Regions from separate parts of the Homo sapiens genome. Here region 2 is linked to region 1. Evidence: fine-mapped expression QTL. A gene starts in region 1. The other region holds a variant in brackets. All regions are shown on one strand. Distances are from middle to middle.

Region 1 (2,821 bases):
TTAATATGGCAGTTTTTCCACGTCTAGCCAACAGTGTTTCTCCAATAAATCTTGGGATCCAATCTGGCTTGATTTGTGGGCTTTTCCATTCTAATGCATTGTTCTGTCCGTTCTAATTTAAATAGTTCCTTTAGAGTACATTTTAATAGCCAGTAGTACAAATATCCCTATCTTTACTTACGTTTTAAAATATTTTTTTTCAGTTATTCTTAGCCATTTTTTTCCCCCGGATGAACTTTAGAATCATAGTAAGTTCCAAAAAAACTTGGTATATTTATTGAAATTGCATCAACTGTATAAACCAATATAGGAAAAATGGACATCACTAAAATATTGAGCCTTCTTATTCAGAAGCATAGTATTCCTTCTCTTTTCATGCAGATGTTCTTTTATGGTATTCGTCAATAAAGTTTTATAGTTTACTTCTAGGTATTTTTATTCGTTTCTCTTGCTATTGCGAACAGGTTTTTTATTATTAAAATTTCAAAATGCTTATTGCTTATAGATAGGAAAACTGCCTATATAAACTATTGATATTTGCCTATTTACAAACAAAAATATGATCAATTTCGCCAGTAATCAGGGAAATGCAAATGAAAACAATGACATACGATTTTTTTGCCCTTTAAATTGGCTAAAATTACAAAGATTGATAATACGTGTTGGCATAACTGTGGAAAAATAGGCACTCTCGCACAACATTAAAGAGTGTAAATTAGTACAGGCTTTTGGGAAGGCAATTTGGACAAATCTATCAAAATTCAAAATGCATATACACCCTGACCCAGCGGTTACTCTTCTAAGAATTTCTCCTACAGAAATACTCATACATGGCATGATACATATACACAAACCCATTCATTATGGCATTGCTTGTAATAGTCCCCTCCCTCCCCCAACAGAGAAACAAGCTAATGTATATCAATCGGGAAATGGTTAAATAAACTGTAGTACAATCATACAATGCAGCTGTTTAAAACCCAACATAAATTTGGATTCCCGGATATAAGAAGATCTACAAGACATATTCTCAGATTTTTAAACAAGCAGTTAGTCGAAATGAATGTGTGTGTGTGTGTAGTACCATTTAGATATCAAAACATATATATGCAACGCCTAGTAGTTACCCGCGAAGCCTGCCTGCCCGCCCCTCACCTTCCCTCTCCTCTGAGGCCGCCTTCCTCGAACCAGTGAGAAACGCTGAAGGCCCGGCCTCTACTCTCTCTTTAGGGCCACTTGGCCATGGCTAATGCCGGTACCTCGCATCCCCTCTGTCAGCCGCTCTCTCGCCGCGCCGCCGGCAGCTGCCGGGCTGCCCCCGAAGATGCGGCTAGCTCTCCGCTGGCGCCTGCCGAGGCCTGGGGGAGGGGAGAGGAGGCGGGGTTCAGGGAGGGTTGGGGCAGGCCGCCCTGCCCCTCCAGCAGCCTTTCCCGCAGGCTCCCCAAGGCCGCCACCTCCGCGCCTCCGCGCAGGGTCCCGTGGGAACTCCCCCCCCAACCTCGCCACTGCCACCCGCGAGAAACCGAGAACGGCCGCGCGTACAGAGCTCGCCCTCCAGCCCAGGGATAGACGCTCACCTCGGCCGCAATGGCTCCGCGGGGCCCGCAGGAGCGTGCGGGGTCCGCGGCCCTGCTTCAGCCCTGCTTCAGCCCTGCTCCAGCCCTGCTCCAGCCCTGCTCCAGCCCTGCTCCCCTCGCTAGCCCTCAGTCGAAAGCCTCCTCGCTTCGGCTCAGCTCAAACTCGATTTGGGGCTCCACCCACCGCAAGCGAAGCCCCGCCCCTGCCCCTCGGGAGGGAGCTCCCTCCGCGGTGAAGTCGGGTCCCTTGCAGGGGACCGCGCCTGAGCTACCCAAGGCCCAGTAAATGCAACCATAGAGGATGATAGGGTCGCTAAGAATTGGGATTTGATTCGAGGCACGGTGGAAGCCGCGGAAGGGAACATGATTTGATCTGATTTACCTTTAAAAATTAACGACCTCGCCAGATGCCTTGTGAAGAATGGGGAGTGTGGGGCAAGAGGGCAAGGCTGGACCCAGAGCGGAGGGTGGGAGACGACGTGGGAAGCCGACCACCCAGAGTTCACGCGAGCAAACCCTTAAAACACTTCAGGCACATAGTAAGCCCTCAATAAACATTCTTTTTTCCTCCTTTAATTATTTGGAACGGCAGTGCGATTGACAAGGATCCTGTAGAGGATCTGCATCTGTAAATACATGGGAATAAAAAGGACCTGGTGGGAGATCACCTGTTAACCCTACTTAATTATTGTGGGCTGCGGACGACATTGGAGGGGCGAAGAACTTTGACTTGGAACTCTAGCTACTTCGATAAGGTTTCAATTTTTAATAAAAAGTATGTATTAATTTAGTATTTAAAGACAAAAGCACTATTAAAAGAACTCCTGAGACATCGAGGAAATAAAAACTGTGATTATACCCTCCACTTCTCTAATTCCAGCCCTCCAGAGCAGTGGTTCATCCCTCGAATTGAGAATCTAATGAATGGGTCCCCCACCCCAATATATACTTACACATAAAATTTTGTATATGATCTCAGGAGATGTACAGGGCCCCTTCGAGATACACTGTTTCATTGAATATTTTTACAATTTTTTTTTTTTGAGACAAAGCATCACTCTGTCACCCAGGGTGAAGTGCAGTGGCACGGTCACGACTCACTGCAGCCTCGACCTCCTGGGCTCAAGGATCCTCCTGCCTGCCTACAGTCTCCCAAGTAGCTGGGCCTCCAGGTATGCGCCACCACGCCTGGATAACTTTTTATTTTTTGTAGAGGCGGGGTCTCACTATGTTGCCAGGCTGGT
Region 2 (2,821 bases), 840 kb before region 1:
GGTCTATATCTCTGTTTTGGTACCAGTACCATACTGTTTTGGTTACTTTATCCTTGTAGCATAGTTTGAAGTCAGGTAGCCTGATTTCTCCAGCTTTGTTCCTTCTCCTTAGGATTGTCTTGGCAAGGCAGGCTCTTTTTTGGTTCCATATGAACTTTAAAGTAGTTTCTTCCAATTCTGTGAAGGAAGTCATTGGGAGCTTGATGGGGATGGCATTGAATCTAAAAATTGCCTTGGGCAGTATGGCCATTTTCACAATATTGATTCTTCCTATCCATGAGCATGGAATGTGCTTCTATTTGTTTGTGTCCTTTTTTACTTCGTTGAGCAGTGGTTTGTAGCTCCCCTTGAAGAGGTCCTTCACATCCCTTGTAAGTTGGATTCCTAGATATTTTATTCTCTTTGTAGCAATTGTGAATGGGAGTTCACTCATGATTTGGCTCTCTGTTTGTCTGTTATTGGTGTGTAAGAATGCTTGTGATTTTTGCACATTGATTTTATATCCTGAGACTTTGCTGAAGTTGCTTACCAGCTTAAGGAGATTTTGGGCTGAGATGATGGGGTTTTCTAGATATACAATTATGTCATCTGTAAACAGGGACAATTTGACTTCCTCTTTTCCTAATTGAATACCCTTTATTTCTTTCTCCTGCCTGATTGCCCTGGCCAGAACTTCCAACACTATGTTGAATAGGAGTGGTGAGAGAGGGCATCCCTCTCTTGTGCCAGTTTTCAAAGAAAATGCTTCCAGCTTTTGCCCATTCAGTATGATATTGGCTGTGGGTTTGTCATAAATAGCTCTTATTGTTTTGAGATATGTCCCATCAATACCTAATTTATTGAGAGTTTTTAGCATGAAGGGCTGCTGAATTTTGTCAAAGGCCTTTTCTACATCTACTGAGATAATCATGTGGTTTTTGTCCTTGGTTCTGTTTATATGCTGGATTACGTTTATTGATTTGTGTATGTTGAACCAGCCTTGCATCCCAGGGATGAAGCCCACTTGATCATGGTGGATAAGCTTTTTGATGTGCTGCTGGATTCGGTTTGCCAGTATTTTATTGAGGACTTTTGCATCG[A/G]TGTTCATCAGGGATATTGGTCTAAAATTCTCTTTTTTTGTTGTGTCTCTGCCAGGCTTTGTTATCAGGATGATGCTGGACTCATAAAATGAGTTAGGGAGGATTCTCTCTTTTTCTATTGATTAGAGTAGTTTCAGAAGGAATGGTACCAGCTCCTCCTTGTACCTCTGGTAGAATTCAGCTGTGAATCCATCTGGTCCTGAACTTTTCTTGGTTGGTAAGCTATTAATTATTGCCTCAATTTCAGAGTCTGTTATTGGTCTATTCAGAGATTCAACTTCTTCCTGGTTTAGTCTTGGGAGGGTGTATGTGTCCAGGAATTTATCCGTTTCTTCTAGATTTTCTATGCAAATAAGCATAGAGGTGTTTATAGTATTCTCTGATGGTAGTTTGTATTTCTGTGGGATTGGTGGTGATATCCCCTTTATCATTTTTTATTGCGTCTATTTGATTCTTCTCTCTTTTCTTCTTTATTAGTCTTGCTAGCAGTCTATCGATTTTGTTGATCTTTAAAAAAAAAACCAGCTCCTGGATTCACAGATTTTTTGAAGGGTTTTTTGCGTCTCTATCTCCTTCAGTTCTGCTTTGATCTTGTTATTTCTTGCCTTCGGCTAGCTTTTGAATGTGTTTGCTCTTGCTTCTCTAGTTCTTTTAATTGTGATGTTAGGGTGTCAATTTTAGATCTTTTCTGCTTTCACTTGTGGGCATTTAGTGCTGTACTTTTCCCTCTACACACTGCTTTAAATGTGTCCCAGAGATTCTGGTATGTTGTGTCTTTGTTCTCATTGGTTTCAAAGAACATCTTTATTTCTGCCTTCATTTCGTTATTTACCCCGTAGTCATTCAGGAGTAAGTTGTTCAGTTTCCATGTAGTTGTGTGGTTTTGAGTGAGTTTCATAATCCTGAGTTCTAATTTCATTGCACTGTGGTCTGACAGACAGTTTGTTATCATTTCTGTTCTTTTGCATTTGCTGAGGAGTGCTTCACTTCCACCTATGTGGTCAATTTTGGAATAAGTGCGATGTGGTGCTGAGAAGAATGTACATTCTGTTGATTTGGGGTGAAGAGTTCTGTAGATGTCTATTAGGTCTGCTTGTTGCAGAGCTGAGTTCAGTTCCTGGATATCCTTGTTAACCTTCTGTCTCGTTGATCTGTCTAATGTTGACAGTGGGGTGTTAAAGTCTTCCATTATCATTGTGTGGGAGTCTAAGTGTCTTTGCAGGTCTCTAAGGGCTTGCTTTATGAATCTGGGTGCTCCTGTATTGGATGCATGTATATTTAGGATAGTTAGCTCTTCTTGTTGAATTGATCCCTTTACCATTATGTAATAGCCTTCTTTATCTCTTTTGATCTGTGTTGGTTTAAAGTCTGTTTTATCAGAGACTAGGATTGCAACCCCTGTTTTTTGTTTGTTTGTTTGTTGTTTGTTTTGTTTTGTTTTTTTGTTTTTTTGCTTTCCATTTGCTTGGTAGATCTTCCTCCATCCCTTTATTTTGAGCCTATGTGTGTGTCTCTGCACGTGAGATGGGTCTCCTGAATACAGCACAGCAATGGGTCTTGACTCTTTATCCAATTTGCCAGTCTCTGTCTTTTAATTGGGGCATTTAGCCCATTTACATTTAAGGTTAATATTGTTATGTGTGAATTTGATCCTGTCATTATGATGTTAGCTGGTTATTTTGCCTGTTAGTTAATGCAGTTTCTTCCTAGCATTGATGGTCTTTACAAATTGGCATGTTTTT

Alleles and levels. Alleles are on the strand shown, and positions count from the first base shown. SD is a standard deviation of normalised expression in the study named.
In carriers of allele G in region 2, the expression in tibial artery of the gene that starts at base 1,709 in region 1 tends to be lower than with A alone (small effect, 0.15 SD a copy in GTEx).

The links. PIP is the estimated chance that this variant, and not a neighbour inherited with it, causes the effect. A credible set is the group of variants that fine-mapping cannot tell apart.
Region 2: its variant is the best candidate, but not a certain one, in a credible set for the expression of HUWE1 in tibial artery (GTEx, PIP 0.84).

What each region holds. Positions count from the first base shown.
Region 1 is chrX:53,685,011-53,687,831 of GRCh38, forward strand. It overlaps HUWE1 (HECT, UBA and WWE domain containing E3 ubiquitin protein ligase 1), which reads right to left and starts at 1,709. Exons shown (of 84, transcript NM_031407.7): 1 at 1,578-1,709; 2 at 1,260-1,358. RefSeq lists an enhancer at 1,053-1,132 and silencers at 1,343-1,642, 1,716-1,890.
Region 2 is chrX:52,844,832-52,847,652 of GRCh38, forward strand. No RefSeq gene overlaps it. Among named protein-coding and RNA genes, the nearest start is that of XAGE3, 22 kb to the right of the region's middle. The variant A/G (reference allele first, on the strand shown) is at 1,080.